Regions from separate parts of the Homo sapiens genome. Here all the other regions are reported to be linked to region 5. Evidence: microRNA targets listed by miRTarBase, many of them from high-throughput screens and not tested one by one. Region 5 holds a microRNA gene; each other region holds the end of a gene's coding sequence.

What was found. Region 5 holds the annotated microRNA hsa-miR-378a-3p (ACUGGACUUGGAGUCAGAAGGC, at 2,867-2,888, opposite strand). A microRNA usually pairs through its seed, bases 2 to 8, with sites in the 3' UTR of a target mRNA and lowers its output. Matches are read on the target gene's strand: a 7mer-m8 pairs with bases 2 to 8, a 7mer-A1 pairs with bases 2 to 7 and ends in A, and an 8mer does both.
Region 1: the mRNA of DDX39A is a reported target of hsa-miR-378a-3p. The part of its 3' UTR that is shown has no 7-base or 8-base seed match.
Region 2: miRTarBase lists FNDC3B as a target of hsa-miR-378a-3p. Seed matches in the 3' UTR shown: 8mer at 5,545-5,552.
Region 3: miRTarBase lists TIGD1 as a target of hsa-miR-378a-3p. The part of its 3' UTR that is shown has no 7-base or 8-base seed match.
Region 4: the mRNA of NDFIP2 is a reported target of hsa-miR-378a-3p. Seed matches in the 3' UTR shown: 7mer-m8 at 2,543-2,549 and 7mer-A1 at 2,196-2,202.

What each region holds. Positions count from the first base shown.
Region 1 is chr19:14,405,268-14,409,433 of GRCh38, reverse strand. DDX39A (DExD-box helicase 39A) reads left to right here. Exons shown (of 11, transcript NM_005804.4): 9 at 1-131; 10 at 250-397; 11 at 482-636. The coding sequence ends at 498. ADGRE5 (adhesion G protein-coupled receptor E5) reads right to left here. Exons shown (of 20, transcript NM_078481.4): 14 at 3,495-3,686; 15 at 2,877-3,103; 16 at 2,668-2,734; 17 at 2,474-2,565; 18 at 2,205-2,373; 19 at 1,425-1,526; 20 at 711-1,342. The coding sequence ends at 1,313. Among named protein-coding and RNA genes, the nearest start is that of DDX39A, 12 kb to the left of the region's middle. RefSeq lists enhancers at 138-187, 1,408-1,637, 3,020-3,649, 3,783-4,077, 3,650-4,166 and a silencer at 2,986-3,505.
Region 2 is chr3:172,395,981-172,402,416 of GRCh38, forward strand. It overlaps FNDC3B (fibronectin type III domain containing 3B), which reads left to right. Exons shown (of 26, transcript NM_022763.4): 26 at 1,184-5,689. The coding sequence ends at 1,495. Among named protein-coding and RNA genes, the nearest start is that of GHSR, 49 kb to the right of the region's middle.
Region 3 is chr2:232,544,868-232,548,867 of GRCh38, forward strand. TIGD1 (tigger transposable element derived 1) reads right to left here. Exons shown (of 1, transcript NM_145702.4): 1 at 1-4,000. The coding sequence ends at 3,240. CHRNG (cholinergic receptor nicotinic gamma subunit) reads left to right here. Exons shown (of 12, transcript NM_005199.5): 11 at 1-35; 12 at 676-3,248. The coding sequence ends at 849. Among named protein-coding and RNA genes, the nearest start is that of TIGD1, 3.7 kb to the right of the region's middle.
Region 4 is chr13:79,548,902-79,555,337 of GRCh38, reverse strand. NDFIP2 (Nedd4 family interacting protein 2) reads right to left here. Exons shown (of 8, transcript NM_019080.3): 7 at 4,216-4,321; 8 at 1-2,822. The coding sequence ends at 4,218. Among named protein-coding and RNA genes, the nearest start is that of LINC01068, 15 kb to the left of the region's middle.
Region 5 is chr5:149,731,755-149,735,754 of GRCh38, reverse strand. MIR378A (microRNA 378a) reads right to left here and starts at 2,930; the gene lies at 2,865-2,930. The region is part of intron 1 of PPARGC1B (PPARG coactivator 1 beta); the gene reads right to left. RefSeq lists a silencer at 3,778-4,000.

The DNA.
Region 1 (4,166 bases), not on the chromosome of region 5:
AGCAGTTCAAGGATTTCCAGCGGCGGATCCTGGTGGCCACCAATCTGTTTGGCCGGGGGATGGACATCGAGCGAGTCAACATCGTCTTTAACTACGACATGCCTGAGGACTCGGACACCTACCTGCACCGGGTGAGCAGCCTCACGGGCATGTTGCTTTCCCCTGGCGGTGGGGTGGGGCCCCAGCCCTGCTTTTCCTCAAGTCCTGAGGTAGTATCTGTGGCCTGACCCTGATCCTGTCTGCCTGCAGGTGGCCCGGGCGGGTCGCTTTGGCACCAAAGGCCTAGCCATCACTTTTGTGTCTGACGAGAATGATGCCAAAATCCTCAATGACGTCCAGGACCGGTTTGAAGTTAATGTGGCAGAACTTCCAGAGGAAATCGACATCTCCACATACAGTAAGTGCCTTGGGCAGGGCCAGGGGTCTGGGGCAGAGGGTTCCTCCCCCGGCCCTTCAGTTCACTGCATCTCATGTCTTACAGTCGAGCAGAGCCGGTAACCACCACGTGCCAGAGCCGCCCACCCGGAGCCGCCCGCATGCAGCTTCACCTCCCCTTTCCAGGCGCCACTGTTGAGAAGCTAGAGATTGTATGAGAATAAACTTGTTATTATGGAAGCCTGGCTCCCACCCCATCTATTTCTTGGTCATCTTGGCCTTTCACGGACACCCTGGGCCCGGCCTCTGAATCACCACCAGCAGGCAAGGCCATCTTCTGTATGCATGTGTTTAATTTTAAGTGTCAACACTGAAAAATTTTAACAGATAAAAACACATTACACAACGTCTACAACCTTCACAACAGTGAGAACCTCCTGCCCGGCCAGGCAGGGCAGGCCTCTGTACCGTGAGCCTCAGGCAGTGGCCCCAAGGGGCCTCGCCATGGGGCCTCTGACATCAGTCTTAGCTTAAGAGGGAAGCTGAGCCCCAGCGCCTAGTCTCTTCAGTTCTGCAGCAAAGACATGAGAGGAAAAGTCCAGGATGGGACAAGCGCCCTTAGTCTGTCCCGAGTACTGGCCACAGGTGCCAGGGCAACATGCTGCATTGCAGCCCTGGGCCAGCCCCTGTCCCCACCCTGGGTCACAAGGTGGAGCAGAGAGGCAGCCAGCAGCAGGACCAGTGGCTCCGACTCCACCCCACTGGGTGTCCTGGACTTTGGTGCCAGACTATAGCTGCCACTCCCTCCTGGTGGCACACGGGATCAGGGAGGGAGGGTGGAGGGAGTAGAGTGGTGGACGAAGGGAGGATGGATGGTCTTCGTGTACAAAGCTGCTGTGGCCACAGGAGCTGCTGGGCCGTCCAGAACCATGCGCCTTCATATGCCGGACTCTGATGCCCTGAGGGCCTGGAGAGGAGAGCCCAGAGGCCTGAGCCCCGCTAGCCCTGGTGCCTTCCTGCCCACACCCGCCCCAGGCGCAGCCCCTTACCCGGGTCTGATTGTGGCCAGTGCCAGACGTGGTGGAGGTGAATTCTGAGTACTTGCTCCCCCCAGCAACTAGGCAGGCCCACTTCCGGTATTCTTCCCGAACCTGCCGGCCCAGACACCAAGTCAGGGCAGGAGCAGGCCCTGGGACCATGCACGCTCCTCCCCATGCTCTGCCCTCAGCCCCACCTTCTTGGTGTTTTTGTGTTTGTCTTTTTTTTGAGATCGGGTCCCCCTGTCACCCAGGCTGGAGTGTAGTGGCACCATCATAGCTTACTGCAACCTTGAACTCCTGGGCCCAAGTGATCCTCTTGCCCCAGCCTCCTGAGAAGCTGAGATGGGTATTCAGCACACCCGGCTTTTTTTTTTTTTTTTGGAGACAAGTCTCACTGTCACCCAGGCTGGAGTGCAATGGTGCCATCTTGGCCCACTGCACTCCTGGTTCAAATGATTCTCCTGCCTCAGCCTCCCAAGTAGCTGGGACTACAGGCGTGTGCCACCATGCCTGGCTAATTTTTGTATTTTTAGTAGAGACAGGGTTTCACCATGTTGGCCAGGCTGGTCTTGAATTACTGACCTCAGGTGATCTGCCCACCTCGGCCTCCCAAACTGTTGGGATTACAGGCGCCTCACCCTGGCTATCTTTGAATTTTTTTGTAAAGACAGCATCTGGTTATGTTGCCCAGGCTGGTCTCCAACTTCTGGGCTCAAGCAATCCTCCCACCTCAGCCTCCCAAATAGGTGGGAGGATGACAGGCGTGCGCCACTGTGCCCAGGCCCCCACCTTCTTGTTGAGCAGGCAGTGCAGCAGGTAGAGGAAGGCGCCCTGCAGGCAGTTGAGGATGGTAAACACATAGGTCAGCACCAAGCTCCGATCGTCGAAGATGAACAGGCCAAAGACCCAGGTGCAGCCCAACAGGAAGAGCTGCGCGATGGCCGTGATGGTCAGCGCCCTGCGAGGAGCGGGGTTGCAGCGTGGGCCCCCACCTCACCTCCAGCTTCATGCCCCTCACCCCGGCCCCGCCTCCAAGTCCTTCCAGCCTCTCCTCTCACCTCGCCTTCTTTAATTTCTTCATGTCTGGATTGATTTCAGAAAACTTCTGAGTGAGCTTCCAGACGGTAGTCACGAAAATGACAGCATTGCACTGGGCAGGGAGCAGATTGTGGGTTAGAGGGCGAGAGCGATGGTCCAGCCGGGCCTGGGCCTGTGGCGCTCGGGCTTCGGTGGAGGGAGAGTGGGTACTTACCAAAATGATGAAGGTCACAGGTCCCAAGAAGCTCCAGAGGAAGCCCTGCTCAAAGTCCAACCAGCAGCTAGGAGGGAAGGGAGGGGTCCCATCAGTGCCCCAGGAAGCCAGGAGCGGAACGGAGGGCGGCCGGACATTGTGTGTGGCACTGCCTGTGAGCCCCAGGCCCAGCACCCCGCCTTCCTCCTGCCCCATCTCGCTGCACTCACTATCTGGGGCGGCCGTAGCCCTTGCTGTAGATGGCAGCCGAGACGCCCACGATGAGCAGGGGCACGCCATAGCCGATCAGGCAGAGCCAGCGCGTACTCAGGCCCTGGCCTTGGAACACGCGCACCACAAGAAAGTAGAGCTCCAGGCCTTCGAGGCTCATCCAGCAGAAGGCGGCCAGGAAACAGTAGTGCAGCAGCCCGGCCACCAGGCGGCAGCGCAGCCCCACCTGCGGGGCGGGGACGGAGGGGCGGAGCGACGTCAGCGCGGGGAGGGGCATGCGGCGCCAGAGCCAGTCGCCTGCCAGGTCCCGAGAGTGGGCGGGACCACAGCCGGAGGGTGGGCGGGTCTGGAGCGGGGGCCAGGTTTCCCCCCAGGGCCCACCCCCAACAACGCTCAGAAGCGAGCGGGCACTCGGGGTGTGGCCAGGCAGCTCCAAAGCCAGCGCCCTTTAAAGAGACAACCCGACCCCCCGGTGGGCGGGGCCAGATCCCGGACAGGGGCGGGGCCTCATGCCTCCAGGGCCCGCCTACCCGACTGAGCCCCGGGAGTGGGCGGGGCTAACCCCTCCCAGGCCTCCCTGACCCCAGAGCTCAGGAGGGAGCGGGGCGGGACCTCACCTGGCCGCCTTCGTTCTCGATGCCGGCCAGGAAGATGGTGGAGCCCACGAAGAGGCAGATGCAGAGGTGCAGGTGTATGGTGGTGCGCGAGCCCTGGATGGGCCGCACCAGCAGGAAAGTGAGGATGCACAGCAGCAGGCAGAAGAGTGACAGCGCCAGTCCCACCCTGGTGATCAGGGTCAGCTTCCAGTCCTAGGAGTGGCACCGGGTGCTCAGGGTTCCTTCAGGGCATGAGGCCTTCCTGCCCTCTTTGTGGTCCCTTTTCCCCCCCACACTTTGACGGGCCCACCTCTCTGACCTCCTCCCTTGTCCCTCCTAGATCTGGCCACACTTACCAGCTGGAAGGGGAGTCTAGGGATTTCACATTTTTGTGCTTGCTGGGCCTTTGGCCTGGACCACAGGCGCCCCCCTTCTCTGCCTGGTTAATTGCAGTTTTCGACAAGGCCCAGCTTAACGATGGATCCTACTGAAGTCACGTACAGAAAGTGGTGCTCCAGGCTGGGTGTGGTGGCTCATGCCTCTAATCCTAGCACTTTGAGAGGCTGAGGGGGGGCAGATCACCTGAGGTCAGGAGTTCGAGACCAGCCTGCCCAACATAGTGAAACCCCGCCTCTACTAAAAATACAAAAATTAGCGGTGCATGGTGGCATGCACCTGTAATCCCAGCTACTT
Region 2 (6,436 bases), not on the chromosome of region 5:
AAACTGTTTCTTGTGAAGTTAACTACAGAACTACTCTGTGACCCAGCACTTCCTTGTATTTACCCAGAAAAATAACTTAAGTTCTCAAAATTTGAACAAAAACATTCATAACATTCTTATTAATAGCATTTTTATTATACGAAACCTCCAAACTGGAAATAACCCGAATGTCCATCGAAAAGAAAATGGAGGAATTAAGGTATAGTTATAAGGAACTACTACCGAATAGCTCGATAACATGAGTGAATCTCATAGGCACAAGGGAGTGTGTTCTGCATGATTCCATTTATATGAACTCCTAGTATAAGCAAAATTAATTACAGAATTAGAAGTCATTATAGTGTCTACCTCTTGGGGTGGAGGTGGGATATCTTGAGGGGATGCGTTTGTAATGTATCCAGTTGTCAAAAAATCATCCTGCTGGAAAATTTACATTTTGTTTGCTCAGTTTTTAATTGTTTCCATTTTAGAATGTTAACTTTGTTCTTGGGACCAAAAACATAGACCTATTTGTATTATGACATCTTCTGATTTATAGTCTAAATCAGGGGTCCCCAACCCCCAGGCCGGGTACCAGTACTGGTGAGTGGCCTATTAGGAACCAGGCCGCACAGCAGGAAGTGATTGACAAGCAGGAACGTTACTGCCTGAGCTCTGCCTCCTGTCAGATCAGTAAGGCATTAGATTCCCACAGAAGCATGAAGCGTATTGTGAACTGTGTATACGAGGGATCTAGGTTGTGCACTCCTCATGCGGATCTAACACCTGATGACCTGAGGTGGAACAATTTCACTTTGAAACTACCCCTGTCCGTGGAAAACTTGTCCTCCACAAAACCAGTCCCTGGTGCCCAAAAGGTTGGGGACCGCTGACCTAAATTATTAAAATTTAGTGAGATGCATCCTTACTACTTAAAATGTCAGCTGCATTTCTAGTCAGTGCCTTATCTCCTTCTGTCAAAGTTCGAGTCACTGGATTTTATATTGTTTCATTCAAAGTGTGTTGGAATACCCTTTTTATGGTTGGAATACAGATTGAGAGAAGTACATTTTTATATCATCTTTGTTATAAGAGTGAATGTGAATATAAACCAAGAGTGAATGGAGTGAATCTAAACCAAGATTCTTCTAGAGACAACAGTGTTGCTATAAATTAATTAACTAGGACTCTTCTTTTCCTGAAGGTGTACAAGGGAGAAGAAGCCACATTCCAAATCTCAGGCCTCCAGACCAACACAGACTACAGGTTCCGCGTATGTGCGTGTCGTCGCTGTTTAGACACCTCTCAGGAGCTAAGCGGAGCCTTCAGCCCCTCTGCGGCTTTTGTATTACAACGAAGTGAGGTCATGCTTACAGGGGACATGGGGAGCTTAGATGATCCCAAAATGAAGAGCATGATGCCTACTGATGAACAGTTTGCAGCCATCATTGTGCTTGGCTTTGCAACTTTGTCCATTTTATTTGCCTTTATATTACAGTACTTCTTAATGAAGTAAACCCAACAAAACTAGAGGTATGAATTAATGCTACACATTTTAATACACACATTTATTCAGATACTCCCCTTTTTAAAGCCCTTTTGTTTTTTGATTTATATACTCTGTTTTACAGATTTAGCTAGAAAAAAAATGTCAGTGTTTTGGTGCACCTTTTTGAAATGCAAAACTAGGAAAAGGTTAAACTGGATTTTTTTTTTTAAAAAAAAGAAAAAAAAAGAAGAAAAGTATACCAGATACCAAAAGCTAGCTTTCTTATGTTTTCCTTTAAATTTTCAGATTTACCTTCATTCTGTTTTCACTGATGTCTTTTGCAAGCCTTTGATTTTTTTTTTTTTGTTACAGTTTAGTAATTTATATTCACCAGTCACTTCATATGTCTTGAACATCTGTATCTGTAAACATGAATCACCGTGTGTGTACTTACAGGGCTAGGATTTCAGTGTTGTCAGAGTATTACCACACAGCAACAGCAACATACAGAAGATATGTTCACTCAGATAAGACTGCCCTAAACAACCATTTTGTCACTCAGTTATTTAACTGTGTTTAGCTCATTTAAATCAAAATGTGTACTTTAATCTAAAATGTTTTAATAATCTGTATTTCTTATAATTTTAACACTATGAGCTGCCTGTATAAGAAATCAAGTAACCAGAATGCACCTATAAATTATGGAGCATTGTAGATTTTACCACATCAATTCATAGCAGTAACTTTAAGAGGGCATTGTGCAATAGTTAGTTGTTTTCTTGTTCAGCTATTTTAAAGGCTGCTTTAACTTGTTTGTTTGTCTTTGTATATAACTACTTCTAATCTAATCACTAGAGTTATTATATTCTGTTATGTTTGACCAGAATTATATGACAAGAACTGGTGACAGTTTAGTGCCTCTGCCCATTGTCCATGATTTACACTAATTGTGAGCAGTCTTCTTATGTGTCAGCTCATTATTTTTGAAACATTTGCCTTTAGGCTGTTCTTTGAGGTATCAATGAAGTGATTGAATTTCAATACCTTAATTCAGTGCACATAATACTAATGTAACAGCAGATGAAAATTGATAAAACCCAAAAGAGAGTCATCTAAATTTGTAGTTCCTATTTCTGTGGGTTTGCCTGGCCATGGTTGGAGAGGGAATGGTGTTTGATGGTAAACACAGGGTGTTTGGGGATCAAGGAGCCTAGATTCTCTCCCTGGATCTGTCACTAACTTGCTGCGTGACCTGAACACGTCACTTTACCTCTCTGTGCCTCAGTTTTCCCATGCATGAAAAATAAAATAAAATAAAACGGGGATTCTAATGTTTGTAAGTGCTTTGAGATCTTTGACCAACAGGTGCTATTGGAGTGCAAAGTGTTACTCTTACGTGTTTATTTTGAGTCATGAGATAATCAATTTTAACCCAAAGTCATTGGATTATTTATATGAAGTCCATAATGTTCGAGTACCTCAGGGACATTTAAGAGTTGGAGGTGCAAATATATTCCAAAAGGGTGCAACAGACACAGTGTATCCCCCTGCTTCTGTTTTTGTATATTTTTGCTACTTGGTTTTTCTTGATCATAGCTATTTTGTGCTTGATCTTTATTGTCTAAGATGCAGTATCCTGTACTAGCTTATAATATTCCCATACCAAAGTCATGGGGAAACAAACATTATTTTGTTTTTGGTTTATTTATACTATATTCTGCATACAGTACTTTAAATGCCAATTACAGTGCAATCTTTATTTATTGTAAAATTTTTTAAGTGTACTTATGTACTAATTTTCCCTTGTAGCATGTTATATTTTTGTGTTTTATACTTTTGTAATTTTAGGTCAGTCTTGTTCCTTGGCAACATCTGTAGTATTATTAATCTTCTGACATTTTCTTATGTTTTTAAAAAGATAAGAGCATCTAGTGCATTAAATGCCAAAAAAAAAATACATTATCAGTGATTGAAACGTTTACATGTACCCAAAAACCATAATCATCTCTTGGAAGAAAATGCTGAGATCAATGAATTATTCTGTGTGCCTATATTGACGTAGTGAGTACTAGAGAGTTCTGTATTTTATTATTGACTATAATAATTAGTTTAATTAGCTTTGCAAACTGATGGCATCAAGGTAAATATATTTTTGCCAAAGTTCTGGCCTTCCAAAACTCACCCCCTTATTTAAATGTGTGCTATGACCCACTATGACCACAGCATCTGCATTTTCTAAAAAATTCCATGCAGGTGTTTTGGGGAGAGGTATTTTTTAAGCAATGAAAATTCAACTGAGTACAAAGCCCCCTCTTGGGGGGTTGGGGAAGTCTCTTTTTTGAAACACTTCAGAACTGCTGCTATAAAGAAATTCTCTAATTGGTTGAATTTTTTTTTTAAGTAAATAGTACTTTAGGCCAAAATTTATATGAATATTTGATCTTCTTGAGATTTTCATACTATCATTTAACCACCAGGAAGCTGAAGTGTGTGAAGTACAAAGCTGACAGCACTTTATTTTATTGCTCTCCATTATTTGGTATTCATTATATTCCTTCAGTCAGAAAATTATTACTCTCTATGGCACTGTTTTTTATCACAAATATGTATATGTGATATTGATATATAACTATATATATTGCCATCACACACGAACAATAAAATAAAGTGTTCTATTAACCTGATCTCTTTGCCCTTTTGCTATGTGAGGAGTGAATGAGTGGCCTTCTGATGCTCTGACTCTTCTCTGTATGTCAAACTCATCCCTGGCACAAGAAATTCCAGTCATGTGAAGCAAACTGCCCTTTGTCCTCAAAGAAATTGTTGAAAAAGAAAACTTTTTAAAGAGATTTTTTGCATATTCTCTGCCTTGTTCTTATCAACTTGAAATGTTGGCATTTTCTAACCTTGTTTTGTTGGCTACAATAATTCAGTATTCATGTCAAAATTGAGAAGTGCCCTAATTGAATGTGTTTGAATGTTATCCTTGCACAATTCTTTAAATTGAAAGATAAAATGTTTTACCTCACTGTTGGACATACATTCCAAGCTTTTCAACTCTAGGAGAAAAAGAAAATCATGTTTTCCTGTATTGTAAATTTTAGACTATTTCATATACATTGTATTAAAACTGCCATATCAATTTTAATGTATAGATTTTGCAAATATTATGCTATATGTAATACCTAACTGTATCTGTAGTGTATATGTAATATATTTATGCCCAATAAATGTTTTAATTCTTTCTGACTTAAATAGGGTTTTTCTGCCATGACTAGGATTGCTTTTGTTGTTGTTGTTGTTGTTTCTTTCTTTTTTTTTTTTTTTGAGACGGAGTCTTGCTCTGTCGCCAGGCTGGAGTGCAGTGGCGCGATCTCAGCTCACTGCAACCTCCAGCTCCCAGGTTCAAGTGATTCCCCTGCCTCAGCCTCCCAAGTAGCTGGGGATTACAGGCACTCGCCACCATGCCCGGATAATTTTTTTTTTTTTTTTGAGTTGGAGTCTTGCTCTGTCGCCCAGGCTGGAGTGCAGTGACCCAATCTCGGCTCACTGCAAGCTCCACCTCCCGGGTTCATGCCATTCTCCTGCCTCAGCCTCCCAAGTAGCTGGGACTACAGGTGCCCGCCACCACGCCCGGCTAATTTTTTTAATTTTAGTAGAGTCGGGGTTTCACCATGTTGGCCAAGATGGTCTCGATCTGACCTCGTGATCTGCCCGCCTCGGCCTCCCAAAGTGCTGGGATTACAGGTGTGAGCCCCCGCACCCAGCCTTATTCTTCCCTTTTAAATACTTAAAGCACATTCAGATTAGTTGAAAATTCACGTGTTTTTGGAGGCCAGGCAGGTGGCCTTCTGCAGAGACAGCAGCAGCTCAGCTCTTGCTGACCAAGGCCTTGGAGGACTGTGAGCCACAATCACATATGTCCATGTTTCAAAAGAAGCTAAATATCCAGATTTCCTCCATGGGCCAACTAAAAGGTGATTGTGGACTATACAGGCTGCCAGTTTAATCCTTTATCAGAGTCTCTGTGGATAATGTACCTTGTTGCCTAATACTTTATCTGTCTACCAAAACTCAGTCCAGATCTCCCTCTGTTCACCTGGCACACTGGGTGCTTCCTCTCCCCTGACGAACTCTATAGAGTGTTCATGTCCTTTCCTGCAGGTCTCATTCAACAACAACAACAACAACAGCAATAAAACACAGTGTTCCTGCTATGGCCATGGTTTTGTGATTTTAGATTGTCTTAGTAGGAATTCCCACTATCTCTTTTATTTTTCAGGAAAATGGGTAAAAAAAACTGTCACTTTATTGAACCTCACTTATATGAAGCATGGTAATTATTCTGGGTAAAGATGACAAATTGAGCACATCAAATTTTGAATGCTCCTGACACCACTAAAAGTAAAGGATTTTTTATTTTTTTAAGTCACAACTCAACCCTCAAGACTGGGAAGAAAGAGGAGTTATTGGCACCAGAATTTTGGAAATATGATCAACAAAACTTAATTCTAATTTGGCAGAGGAGAAAATGAGCATCAGTGTTTTTATTCTCAATGCAGGATACCCTAAAGGCTCAAAAATTGACAGCAACATATCCCTTTGAAGTGATAGTGAAGAGAGAGAGGAGGCTAAAATAGTATTGGTTGAAAGCTGTTTAAAATGCAGTTAGATCAATAAAATCCCTCCCCCTTTTTTTTTTCAGCTGGACAAAAATGTCCCTCCTCCCCACCCACCTCCATCACTCTTGCAGAAGCCTAGAGGTGTATCCTCAGGAGAAGGTTCAAATAGAAAGTCCCTGGACTGGGAGACACGATCCACAGTTGAGAATGAAGGCACCATATCAAAAGCAAATTAGTGAACATAGGCTTATGGAAGAACATTACAAAGAGCCTCATGGGCTGGGAACAACAAAAAAGAAATCTAAAAATCTAAAAATCTTCAATGAAATGGTTCAGCCAGAGCACT
Region 3 (4,000 bases), not on the chromosome of region 5:
CCTGTGCCCGGCACCAGCAGAGTCACTTTGACAATGTAAGCTGAGTCAGGGTGGGGTGGAGGTGGAGTGAGTACCTGGGCTTGGAACCGTGATAGAGACAGGATGAGTGGGGTTGCCAAGATAGGGCAGTGGGATGGAAAAACATGAGGCCGGGTGCAGTGGGTCACACCTGTAATCCCAGTACTTTGGGAGGCCGAGGCGAGTGGATCACCTGAGGTCAGGAGTTTGAGACCAGCCTGGCCAACATGGCAAAACCCTATCTCTACCAAAAATACCAAAAATACCAAAAATTAGCTGGGTGTGGTGGCGGGCACCTGTATTCCCAGCTACTCAGGAGGCTGAGGCAGGAGAATTGCTTGAACCTGGGAGGCGGAGGTTGCAGTGAGCCAAGCCAAGATCGCACCACTGCACTCTGGCCTGGGTGAAAGAGTGAGACGTGAGACTCCGTCTCAAAAAAAAAAAAAAGGAAAGAAAGAAAGAAAAAGGAACAGGGGCAGGGGGGGCACCTCAGGGCCAGGGGGCCATGGAATTAGCCACCAGTTGGGACCCGGACATAGGTAAGAAGGGCCCCAGGAAATGGAGACATGGGCCTGCTGGAAGCCCAAGGATGAGAACAGGACCCAGGGAAGACCTGGTGCCGCCGCTGGTTATCCCACACCTGCCTCCCACCCTCAGGGGAATGAGGAGTGGTTCCTGGTGGGCCGAGTGCTGGACCGCGTCTGCTTCCTGGCCATGCTCTCGCTCTTCATCTGTGGCACAGCTGGCATCTTCCTCATGGCCCACTACAACCGGGTGCCGGCCCTGCCATTCCCTGGAGATCCACGCCCCTACCTGCCCTCACCAGACTGAGCCAACCAACCACTGTGGGGCATGTGGGAGTCACACACGTGGGTCACACTGAGTCTTATCAGCCACGTTCTCCTACTGAGGTCCTAAGTGTGCTCTTTGGGAAGTGCCCTTCAGGACTGTGTGAGCCAAACAGCCCTGAGAAAAGCTGGGGAAACAGTCTGAGCTGGAGTCCGAGAGTGGTTGGGGGTGGGCCGTGGCTAGTGTCCTGCTGCAGTCAGCACACACGTGGGATTGGCTAGCTCATCCTGGCACCAGCCACCCCTCCACTCAGTGCACTCCCCTCACTTAGGCAAAGCATTATTCATTCCCATCAGTCTGAAGCCCGAAGGACTGTTTTGTATAATACCTTCGGACTTGGGACTGGCTCCCCTTTTACAAGTTCTCCCTGAAAGAGGGCAGTCACAAGAGGTGTGAAGAGTAGCAGCCGATGCTCTCTCCAAAGCAGGGCAGCAGCCCATACCAGCTGGCATCTCCCCCCCGTGCCTTCTGGGTACAATAAGCACCCAATTCTCAACAGCCCCAGTGGCCTTTCCATTCATGTGCATTTTTCTGCCACTGACCACAAGACGATTTCCTGAGTTTTGTAATCCTCTTTTTTTTTTTTTTTTTTTTAGTTTTTGATGTGTTGTTGTTGTTTTGTTTAGTTTTGAGATAGAGCCTCACTCTTGTCATGCAAGTTGGAGTGGAGTGGCATGATCATGGCTCACTGCAGCCTCAACCTCCAGGGCTCAAGCAATGCTCCTGCCTCAGCCTCCCAAGTAGCTGGCACCACAGGCATGCACCACTACACCCAGCTACTTTTAAATTTTTAGTAGAGATGAGGTTTTGCTATGTTGCCTAGGTTGGTCTTGAACTCCTGAGCTCAAGTGATCCTCCCACTTGAGTCTTGGGATTACAGGCATAAGCCACTGTACCTGGCCTCCTTTTTAATTAAGAGCTCCTCACAGCAGTATGGATAAGCAAGAGTCATTATTCCCCATGTTATATAGGCAAATTGAGCCTAGAGTAAGCGGGACTCCACACAACAGTGGTGGTTAAACAAGGTTTGAAGTCCAGAATTCCTGACTCTGACCCAATCTGACACTCTAAGATTCTACGGCCTGAAAAACAGGCCCTTCTTCCCAAAGGATGGTTAAGACAAGGAAGAGCTAGGCAAGAGGAGGTGTGGAGTTAACAGAGAGCCACTGAGCTCTTCATTCCAGGAGGAGACTTTGACTGGCCTCCCTTGACCCCACTAATCAGGTAGTAAGGCTGGGGTCTTCCTGGGGGAGAGGCAAGGTCCTGCTCTGAGATTACAGCCGGCACACGAGTTTGGCTGGTAACCAGGGGACACCCTTGGGCAAGTCACCTATGCTCCCTGAGGCTGTTCCCTCATCTGTAAATAAGGTGCAAAAAATAATCCATTCCTGGCCAGGTGTGGTGGCTCACACCTGCAATCCCAGCACCTTGGGAGGACAAGGTGGGTGGACTGCTTGAGCTCAGGAGCCCACGAACCCAGGAACCCAGCCTGGGCAACATGGGGACACCCGGCCTCTACCAAAAAATACAAAACTTAGCTGGGCGTGGTGATGCATGCCTGTAGTCCCAGTTACTCGGGAGGCTGAGGTGGGAGGATCGCTTGAGCCCAGGAGGTCTAGGCTGCAGTGAGCTGTGATCATGTGACTGCACTCCAGCCTGATGACACAGTAAGACCCTGTCTCAAAAAAAATAAAAAAATTACAAAACTGAAAAAAGAAAAGTGAAAGTGCCACATAAAGGCCTGACGACAGGATATGCTGGCAGGAGGGGACCTTGGAAATATGCCCTCCCTCCAAGCACAGGATTGCTGTCTTTGGGATTCAATCACCAGCAAGTTCGTATTATTTACTCCAGTGTGAGTCTGTGTCTGTGCATGCACAGTGTGTTTGAAGCAAGAGCAGAGTCAGAGCTATAGAGAACTAGAGGAGTTAGGGAGAGTGGGGGAGAACTTCAATCAGGGAGGGAATCTGATGACAGTGGGGCCATTTCCGGTTCCCACCAGCCCCTTACTAGTTGTGTATCTGGCACAAGTCTCTCAACCTCTCTGAAAGCCTCAGAGGGCAGAGGATTAGCTCCTTGTACACAATAAACACTCAAATGTTAACATTAGCTGCCATTACTATAAGTTACTGTCTCATGGGATCCATACAGCAACCTAAGGAGGTAGGTCGAGGCATACCTCAAAGACATTGCAGGTTCAGTTCCAGACCAACACAAGAAAGCAAGTCACATGAATGTTTTTGGTTTCCCAATGCATATAAAAGTTATGTTTACACTATACTGTAGACCAGCAAGAGTGCAATAGCATTGTCTAATAAAACAATATACATACCTAAATTTAAAAATACTTTATTGCTAAAAAATGCTGATTATCAATCTGAGCCTTCGGTGAGTCGTACTCTTTTTGCTGGTGGAGGGTCTTGCCTCGAGGTTGATGGTTGCTGACTGGTCAGGGTGGTGGCTGCTGAAGGTTGGGGTGGCTGTGGCAATTTCCTAAAATAAGACATCGGTGAAGCTTTTCGCATGAGTTGACTCTTCCTTTCATGAAAGATTTCTCTGTAGCATGCGATGCTGTTTGATAGCATTTTGCCCACAGTAGAGCTTCTTTCAAAATTGGAGTCAATCCTCTCAAACCCTGCTGCTGCTTTATCAACTAAGTTTATGTAATATTCTAAATCCTTTGTTGTCATTTCAACAATGTTCACAGCATCTTCACCAGGTGTAGATTCCATCTCAAGAAACCACTTTCTTTGCGCATCCATAAGAAACAACTCCTCATCTGTTAAAGTTTTATCATGAGATTGCAGCAATTCAGTTACATCTTCAGGCTCTACTTCTAATTCTAGTTCTTTTGCTATTTCCACCACATCTGCACTTACTTCCTCCACTGAAGTCTTGAACCCCTCATAGTCATCAATGAGGGTGGGAATCAACTTCTTCCAAACTCCTGTTAATGTTGACAATTTGACCTCCTCCCATGAATCACGAATGTTTTTAATGGCATCTAAAATGGTGAATCCTTTCCAGAAGGTTTTCAATTTGCTTTGCCCAGATCCATCAGAGACATCACTATCCATGGCAGCTAGAGCCTTATGAAATGTATTTCTCAAATAATAAGACTTGAAGGTCGAAA
Region 4 (6,436 bases), not on the chromosome of region 5:
TTTGAGCAAACTAAGGATATATATTACCTTAGTTAAGTATGGTATCACATTCACTATCATTACTTTTTGCACTTCTTGAAATAGTACATACTAGATGAAAAAAATTATATTTAATGAAGGAACTCTGAATTTTTCTCCAATTGGATATTTTGAACTCCACTTTTCCTGTTAGGAGAGGTTTTACTGGAAATAATATTGTTTTAGCAGGTAAAAATCTGTGAACAACTTAGAAGGCATGTCTAAAATGAAATATATCTTATAGACTCAAAATAGGCTAAAGATTAGTATTTTTTCCATTAAGCAGAGATTTTCATTTTAACCAAATGTAATGGGATTTGTATTTTAATCTAAGTTTCTAAAATCTGTCCTGCATACACTATATAGAAAAGTGTTGTTTTTGCCTTAAAATTCAGTTTATTGCATAAATACATGAAAATGGATTATCCTAGCCATGACTAGCTTATTCATTTACAATAGAAATAATTTGAAATTTTTTTGTATTAACTTCCAATCCCCAGTTCACACTCAAAAATGTTTAGATACCCTAACAAGAGTTTTGATTTTTCAATCTTTAAGGCAGAGTGCAAAGATGATCAAGCATCCCCAAAACACAACAGCAGCTGTTCAAGCTCACAGGAAATGAAGTATGCAGGATTTTATATATCTGAAGGGAACATTAAGTTCTTGAAAATAACATTCTGATTCCCCTGCTTACATGATGAGATTTAAGGCTACCATTGAATTATGCCAATTATAGAGGATTCAGTAATATGTATACTTGAACCTTACAGATTTGGGGGGAAAAGTCAAAACAAAAAGTGAAGTTTTGATGCTGGATCAAAAGTAACATGTATCCATATTCAGAAAACAAGCACATATACCATAAAAGCTAAAATGAAATTTTAGTAAGTCGATGTTTGATAGCTAAGCTTCCTAGTAATTATTTAATTACCATGTAGCAAAGCTTAATTTCATTTAAAAATTATTGAAAGAATAAAGTACAGGTCTATAAGAAATTAATATGAAAGAGATCCAGCATGAGTTTGAATATGTTATTAGTACAGTTTAATTTTAATTAACTTCCAAATTAGGCAACTAAACTAAATATTTTTTCTTTACCCCATGCTACTGTCTTACTTCAAGGGGTGTAACACAGGTACTTTAATACAACAATAAAAATTTTAATATAACAATAAAAATTCTACGCAGGAAAGTAAACTGAATGAGACAAAACAAAAAATAGGCTATATTAGCAAAACAAAACTGTTTTATTTATCAAAGACAATGAAAAAATTAGAAAATACAGAAGAGGTTATAAAGCATAATAAATTTTATTTTTTGGAAATGGAAAAATGTCCCTGAATAGTTAGATGTACCTTTTAGTAGTAATGTCTAATAATAAATAAGAAATCAATTTTATAAGGTCCATATAGCTGTATTAAATAATTTTTAAGTTTAAAAGATAAAATACCATCATTTTAAATGTTGGTATTCAAAACCAAAGATATAACCGAAAGGAAAAACAGATGAGACATAAAATGATTTGCAAGATGGGAAATATAGTAGTTTATGAATGTAAATTAAATTCCAGTTATAATAGTGGCTACACACTCTCACTACACACACAGACCCCACAGTCCTATATGCCACAAACACATTTCCATAACTTGAAAATGAGTATTTTGCATATCTCAGTTCAGGATATGTTTTTTACAAGTTAATCCTAAAGTCATAAAGCAAGAAGCTATTCATAGTACAAGATTTTATTTGCTAAGCTTTACAAATTAAACTCTAAAAAATTATTACAATGATACTGAAAGATATTTTATTGGCCTTTTAAAAGACAAACACAAATGAGAATTATCTTATTTAGAAAATTAACTTTGAAAATTATCTTAAATGAAATAAATATAATATCTAATACAATCTCTTCCTGCAAGATCTCTTAAGATGGGCAATCCTAAAAATGCAGCTTCCCATCTGAAAATCCCTAAAACTAGTATGTCCCTTAAAATAAAATTTATTTTTCTTATAAAGGACATTTGGTATTCCCACATTTTCTTAAAATTTGTCCTAAAACAAATTCTATCTTTAACACTCACGTTTCTAAATATATATATGTGTGTGTGTATATATATGTGTATACATATACACATATATATTTAGTTCACTTAATTTAAAATTAGTGAAAGCTATCTGGACACAATTTCTAAGAAAACATTGCAGAAAGTAAGTTATGCATGGTTATTTACAGGAAGAGTTTTCCTAAATAATAATGTAAATATCATGTTCAAAAATCTGACAAATCCTTTCTAATAATCAGCACTGCAGGTTTCAATACACCTTATATAACAAAAGATGTTTCATGTGTAGAACTGCCAGATGAGTCTAAGAGCCAGAAACTAAATCATTTGACATGGTTAAGAATTTCATTTTTATTATACTAAATGTCAGGTCAGAAGTCAATGGCATTTACAAGCTGGAAGACTGTTTATCCACTCAACTCTTTCAATTATATCAAACACTGATTAACCAAATGTGACTGGACTTAACTGCTACAACTTTATGGTTTCTATCAAGTATATGCAAATATCTTAAATGGGCACATATGCATATGTGCAAAACAAATGAAATATAGATACTTAAAGAATGAACAGAAATGGCTTGTAAGCAAAAACCACCCTGCCATTCAATTTCGAAACTCCGTCTTTTCTTCACTAATTTGTCTTCTGTTATTAGTAGTCTTCTATTAAAGTTGTAGGTTTACAGATGATCTGGAAATTTCACATTGGTATAAGAAAGGAATGTCGGGTTGATGCAGTCTGGAGACAAAGAAGGAATTAGTCTTAAAATGTATTAAGTTGTCTTTATCTAAATCATAGTATAATACAACACATTTTATAGAAGAATTATATTAAGTATATAATATTCTCTTCATTAAAGTCTACATATCAGAATACATTCTAAAGTGTAAGGCTTCTATAGCAGATTTTCATCTAGAAAATATTTGCATTGTATTTTAGACTCTTCAAAATGCATAGAAGACAATCACACAAATTAGTAAAACAGCAAAATTACTTTGCCTTTTAATCTTATTATTAATACTGACAAATTCTTAATGCCAGTGTCTGCAAAGATATTTTGCTTGTTAAAATAAAAAAGCGACTTCTTTGGGAGTGGTTGGGGGAGACTTTAGTAGAACACTTAAAATGATACTTTAACATGATCTAGAAATACAAATGTATTCATAGTACTCTAGCAGAAATAAGTAAATTATATAAGCTTATGTATAACTTATATAAATGATAAAATGTAAGCAACCAAATCACAAAGCATGCAGTTTATTTATTTGAAAAAAGAATACTTAATAAACTTGAAACACTTTGTTCCTTATAGTCCTGCATTCAGAAGTTAAGTACTAGTAGACATTTTGGTAATAGAGTTCAAATGCTTTATAAGTTTACCTTATTTATAGGTATAAAGTACATGGTACTTGCTTTAAAAAGTAGAATAGGGAGTATGAGGTTACTTTATGTGAAGATACTCCCGCTGAACAATAAATAAATACTATTACTATACCCACGACCTCCAGAAATTCACTGGATAACCAGTAAGACAACTTCTACTCATTTCTTCATATTCCTACTTATTCAAGTTGTAGCCTTCATAGTTGATAAAAAATCAGCACACATTAAGAAAACAATAACAGAACTATTTTCTTCACATGACTTTTATTCCTTAATCCAGACTGTTAAAAGGACTGCAAGACAAATTGTTTTTCAATCAGATTTTTTTCTCCACCAGATGTCTATGTGAATTTCATATTGTTTTAGACAAAAATGCTCATTCCTTCGGTCTAAGTACTATGTCATATTTTGTTTTTTCAAGCCTTCAAATTTTGTGCTGGTGGTTACTTCATATACATTCTATGGTTAATCTTTAAAGAGAAGTTTTAAAAGTCTGATTCAAAATTTCAGTTCACTCGCTATGTATTTTAAAAATTAAAATTTATGAAATTCAATTTTAAAAATCTAAAAGTTATCTAAAAAGGTCTATGACTTATCAAATTTCAATAAGCTGACTGTTAGCAGTATTAAAAAATATTAAATATGCTAACAGTAAAAATCATGAATACACATTAGGCATTTAATATGTATCTGGCAAATTTGAATACATAAAGGGAATAGGCAGAGTTCACAGATTAATATTTCTTACCTCTACAATAAGAAGAAATACCTTGTTCTATGAGCAGCTGCCATACTTTCAGACATGTTTCTGACTTTTAGATAATTAACAAATCCTCTGAAGAAAAGGAGCAGGCCTGAGAAGGTTGAAATAATATGGATATACTATGTTTTTATACAGAAAAGGGCAAGATAAATTTAAAGTAGACAATTATAAACAAGATCCTCTTGGCTTAAGGAATTTTACTTGCAGACTTCCATTCATTTCTGTAATATATTTTACACTATAAGGATAAACTCTGTCACAAGGAAATACAATTTTTCAATTTGTTAAGCCTAGATGTACCAAAATTAAAGCAAATCTAGCTATAAAAATCCAGAATTACATAAAAATATACATTTAAGTGATTTTCTTCAATAGTAAAGTTACCTGACGCACTTAAACTGATTCAACTCATAAAAACCCCATTGAACCCATGGGCTCAATCTTTTCAATTAATATAACTACTGGGTGAACTAAGACATATTTATTTATATAAAGTAGATAAAAAGGAAATATATACATGAGGTTACTAACAATTATGAGGAAAAAAACAATAAGCCTGTATAGTAATATCAAGTGCCTGTCATCTGTGAAATCTGTATTTGAAGATACGTGCATTATGTACATATTTTTAATTATGAGTTCTTATTTTGAAGTAATAATAAAAAACTAACTTATAATAAAAAATTAAGATGAGTTAGAAAAGACAACTTGGAAGACAGTCACTCTAATGATTTAGATTATTTGGGATACATCTTATATCTACCTCAGTTTTCTCCTTTGTAAAGTAGTATTTTAAAATAACAACCACAAATATATTTAATAATTTAAAAAGCAATACCTGTAAAATTCTCTAAAGTTTCACATAAAAAATATTAGATAAGTATAAAACATTACCATTACTAGTATAAGCCTTTGAAATACTTAAGCATATGATTCTTAGGGAAACATTTATTAACTCCAGCAAATTTTTAACCAGGAAAACAGGGTGGGGGGGATCCAAAAACAAAAACAGAAGATATCTACTGTATGTGTATGACTTTCCTCACCAGGAGGAAAAGGAGTTTGTGAATTTAAAATATGAAGTCTCAAACTAAATTTGTACCCCAACTGCAAGACAGTAATCAAATCACTAAAAACAAGAAGCATGTGTGTAGTAAATTGGAGAGGAAAGACAGAAGAGAGATACAAATGATGACTTAAATGGTATAAATTACAGCTAAACCCAATCGCATCTGCTTCCCATATCCTAACTCCCTCCTTTTGGGACTCCTTCTGAATTCCACCCTCATGCCCTTCCAGATGCTGTTCAAAGATAATAATACTGTTATCCAAATGTAAAAATATTATTGAAAAATGTAAACCAACTTATTTGTGGGATCCCTTCCTTTGTCTCTAAAGCTGCTGTTTTCTAACACACATTTTACTTCTCAGGCATTTTCTAAAAGAAGCCACCCAGTTCATACCTAAAAACCAATCGCTCAGTGGCTACTGTTTCTCAGCATTCTACAAAGTGCTCAACATTCTTTTCAGCATATGTGAGAGCAACATTTTTATCACTGATTACATTTTCACATTCCCCTAAATAAATAAACACTAGATTATGGCTCTGAAGTGGAACTGGCATTGTCCTCTGTATTCTACTCTGCCCCACACTAACCTCCTTAAGATTCCTCCAATCTCTAAATAATATATATATACACACAAATGTACTCATTTAATATGCTTAAATACTTAATAGACTTTATAAACCTTCTCACTTTTAGGTAAGAAACTCAATAAAGAACACGGCATTCAGGCAGTTAGAACACATAATATAAAACTGGCTTCACCTCCAGATGCATCTCAACAAAGTCACAACACTAAAATAATTTCAATATAGCTATTAAAGAATTAAGTGACCTTATCTGACTAACAATAATTTGTTTCCCAAAAGATCCTAAAGATCCAACAGTATGACTAAATAAAAACTCAGAGAGAAGACTGCCACCTACTGAAATGCTGTTATTTTCTGGTAAAATTCTGAGTGAAACATGGGCTTTTACTCTTAACTAGAAACAAAAGGTATTCCTTATGTCAGCAAATACATCTGAAATGTGGATTAAAGATATAATGTGATTTAATGATTAACTTAATTATCTCACATTGAAGGTAAAAAACAAAAGGGAACAAAAATTGAAAATCCATAAAATTCCATCAATATTAATAA
Region 5 (4,000 bases):
CTTCAAGGAGCTTAGAGTCAAATAGTCTGGGAACACTGCCCACTAATGCTGGCTCTTCTACTTACTCAAAGGTAATTAGTCTTCCACAAGTCAGTGAGTTCTCTGAAACTGTAAGATCTGTACAGCTGTGCAACAGCACCTACATTTTGCACAATATCTATGAGAATGAAATGTAGTAGTGCAAACAGAAGGCTCAGAAAACTGCATGGGGTATAGGGGATACTCAGTAAACGTCACTGATGATGACGATGAAGGAGAAGGCAAGGATCAACACTGCAATATTCTTGTTAGGCATTTCCAAGCCTGAGCCCCCTTTGCAAGACTGCTTCTCACTCGAGCCAGTCTTTCTTCTATTATTCCAGAGGAAGAAGGAAGAGGGTGACTCACGTGGCATAGTGGAACTTCTGCCTGGCCTGCACGAGCTGCTAAGAGGAGGGCCCTAAGGTAAAGAGGAAATATGAGCCCGTGGGGCACAGCTGCTGGGCCATTGCCCTTCCTGGGTTTCACAGGCATCCTGATCATTAGCACCAGCCAGGGAATCCCAATGAAAGTGGAGCCCAGGTCTCTGGTGAACATGACCCCTTCTGGCTCAGGTGAAGAAGTTACTCTCCCTAAGTCTCACACAGATAAAGAATGGGCAAATGCACCCAGTGAAGGCTATGCTTCAATCTTCTCCCACACACTATACATTTGTCCAAATCTACAAACTGATTTGAAAAAGAAGTTGGCCCTGGCTTCAAGGGGTGTGTGGAGCCATTTTCCCAGTTCTCCATGTGGCAGGGGGCCCTTCTGGGTGCTCAGTCCCAGCTTTAGAACAACGAGGAGACAAGATACCAATTGCAAAATGGGCCAAGTTCAGAAACACAGAACCACAAGTCACCCATGATCATATGGGGAAGAAGTTTAGCATCACAAGTAATCAAATAAATGCACATTAAAACAATAAGGGTAACAGAATTTATTGACGAACAGACTGGTAAAAATGAAAAACAATGAAAATATCAACAGTTATCTGGGTATAGGAAACCAGGTGTTCCCAGACCATGCCAGTGCACAAATAAGTACAATCTTTCTAGAAGAGAATCCAGGAATGAGTTTGATGGAGTAATTTCACTTCTAGGAACTTAAAGGAAGAAACAAAGACATACATAAAAAGATATTCGTTTTAGCATTGCTTACAATAGCAAAATAAAAAAATTAAACAACGTAAATGAGTAACGATAAAGGATTAATTAAATACATCTCGGTTCAATCTTCAACAAAACATTATATAATCATTAAGATACTAAGTAGAATATTTACTGATGTGGAAAGATGTTCACAGCATATTGTTTGGAAGAGGAAAAAAAAAAACAAGTTACAGAACAGTGCAATTCCAAGTTACAAATCAGTATATTCAGGATAACTCCTTTTTTTTTTTTTTTTTTTTTTTTGAGAATGAGTTTCGCTCTTTTGTCCAGGCTAGAGTGAAGTGGCGCGATCTCGGCTCACTGCAACCTCCGCCTCCCGGGTTCAAGCGATTCTCCTGCCTCAGCCTCCCAAGTAGCTGGGATTACAGGTGTGTGTCACCACGCCCAGCTAATTTTTGTATTTTTAGTAGAGACAGGATTTCACCATGTTGGCCAGGCTGGTCCGGAACTCCTGACCTCAGGTGATTCACCCGCCTCGGCCTCCCAAAGTGCTAGGATTACAGGGGTGAGCCACCGTGCCCGGCGACTCCATTTTTTAAAAATAAGATGTGATCTATATGAACAGGAAATAAACAGTCTGGAATATACATGACAATTAAGTGGTTATCTTTGGGTCATGTTACATATTTCTCATTTTTTTCTTTATGCTTGGCAGTATTTTCTAACAATTCTATAATTAAATATTTTTAAATAAGTTGTTAGAACTGATGATTTCTAACATTCCCGCTGCCAACTCTGACATTTTGTGCATCTATGACTGATGCCCTAAGCAACTTCAAATAGCCCATATTTAGTGTGGACTTGCTGTGTGGCCTTTGGGGTCTAAAATTTTGCCCACAGCTGCAGCCCTCTGCATTCCTCTCTCCCACACTCGCTGCCCAGCTGTCTCCCCTGCTAGCCTGGGAGCTTCTGCTTGGCAGGACCCAGCTGCACCCCTGTCTGTAATCCATGTGCCTAGCCAAGAGCTAAGCAAAGGAACACAGCTCAGCATACTGACAGGTGCCTTGCAGGCACAATGATAAAAGGTACAACCCTAGTGCTAGAATCTTACTGGACACCAGACTCACACAAAGTGCTTGGTTGTATCACACAGATGCAGAAAACCAAAGGAGAGAAAGCAGGGCAAGCTGGGCTGGGAGAGCCTAGTAGAGGAGAAGGCCATGCAGGACGGGTGAGTGAGGGTACTCTGGGCCAGGGGCATAGCCTGAACAAAGGTGAAGCCACCCACAGTCCTTTGGGATCCATGCCTCAAAGCTTTCCAAGAAACTTTCGCAATCCTTGTTCTGCTAAATTTCCGTACTTTGGCCCCAATGGGTAAAAGTTAAGTCTCCTAAACAGAAGTCCTCCCTCTAATCTAACCCTGGATTAGCCACCAAAGACAACAACAATCTTTTGGGACAAAGACAATGAATTACCATTTAATCCACTTTCCCCAAAGCTCCCAAAGGGAGATGAAGGAGGGGAGGGTCAGGGAAAGTTTGGGGGAGGAGAGGGGGTTGCAGGAACAACCAGAACATCTCACATGCAAACACTGCTCACCCCCACCACCAGGCCATTGGATTCTCTTGCGGCACCACCAGCCCCATTTGACAGATGGAGGAAATGAGGCTCGGAGAGTTCAAATGGCTTGCTCCGGGGTCACCCAGCCAGAGAGTGGGGAAGGTGACTCCACTCAGGCCTTCTGACTCCAAGTCCAGTGCTATTTCTAGGTAACACACAGGACCTGGAGTCAGGAGCCCTGGGTGGCTCTGTCACCCTCTGGCTGCATGGTCCCATACAAGCCGCTCACTCCTCGCAGCCTCTTTCTCCAGCTGTAAAATAAGGAGGAGCACACTGGGCCCGCCCAGGTCCTCTTCCGGCTGGGCTCTCCGAGCCTTCTAGGGGCGGCTCAAAGCTCATCCTATCAATTACATTTCCCAAGTTGGGCCGGCAAAGATCACCAGAAGATCCTCGGCCTGTCATGTGGTTAAATAAAAAAAGCAAATGTCCCAGATTAACTTTCACTGCACTGCTCCTGCAAACACCTGAGTATTCAATTTTCTAGTTTCCTTAGTTGAAATATTTCTGCTAGCTAGGCTCGCTGGGCGGCTAAAGGGCAAAATAATTAATTATTGCTGAGCCAAACACTGAAGATCGAGTTAAAATCCGGGGTACAGTCCAAAGCGGACAGTTCTTGACATGGGTCCCTGAACGAGTCTCCGGCTATTTCAGGCCTCTCTCATCCGCTTTTCAGCCAAGAGATTCGGAGACGCCCCAGGGCAATTTCGAGATCTGGGGACAGAATCTTCCCAGGAGTGACTCTGCCCCTCCTCCCGCACTCAGTGCCCGCTAGCCCCAAGCTGTCGGCTCTGGGGGTACTGAGGCTGGGACCTGCCTTCGGCGCAGACACCGGCGCGGGGCGTGTGACGGAGCCCGGCGACGACGGCGGGAGCTCCACCGCAGTTTCGTCAGAGGTAAAGGTACGCGCCCGGCGCGCGCGGCGTGTGCACACACACACACACACACACACACACACACACCCGCGCGCGCAACCCGCTCATCACACATTCCCCTCGATCTCGAGAAGCGCAATCACACGCCACTAGCCCCTCCGGCCTCTGCCGCGAACCCACCCGAGCGCGCCCGCCACCGACCACGCGGCCCCGCGGCTCCCCTACGCAGCGGCGTCTGCAGCGGGCCAGGGGCGGCCTGCCTCCCGCGTGGCGGGCTTCCTCTCGGCGACACCCTGCCACGCCACGCCGTCCCAGCCGCCAGCCCGAAGTCGCTGCCCGGAGCTGAACGTCTCGGCTGCGGCGTCCCTTCCAAGTCGC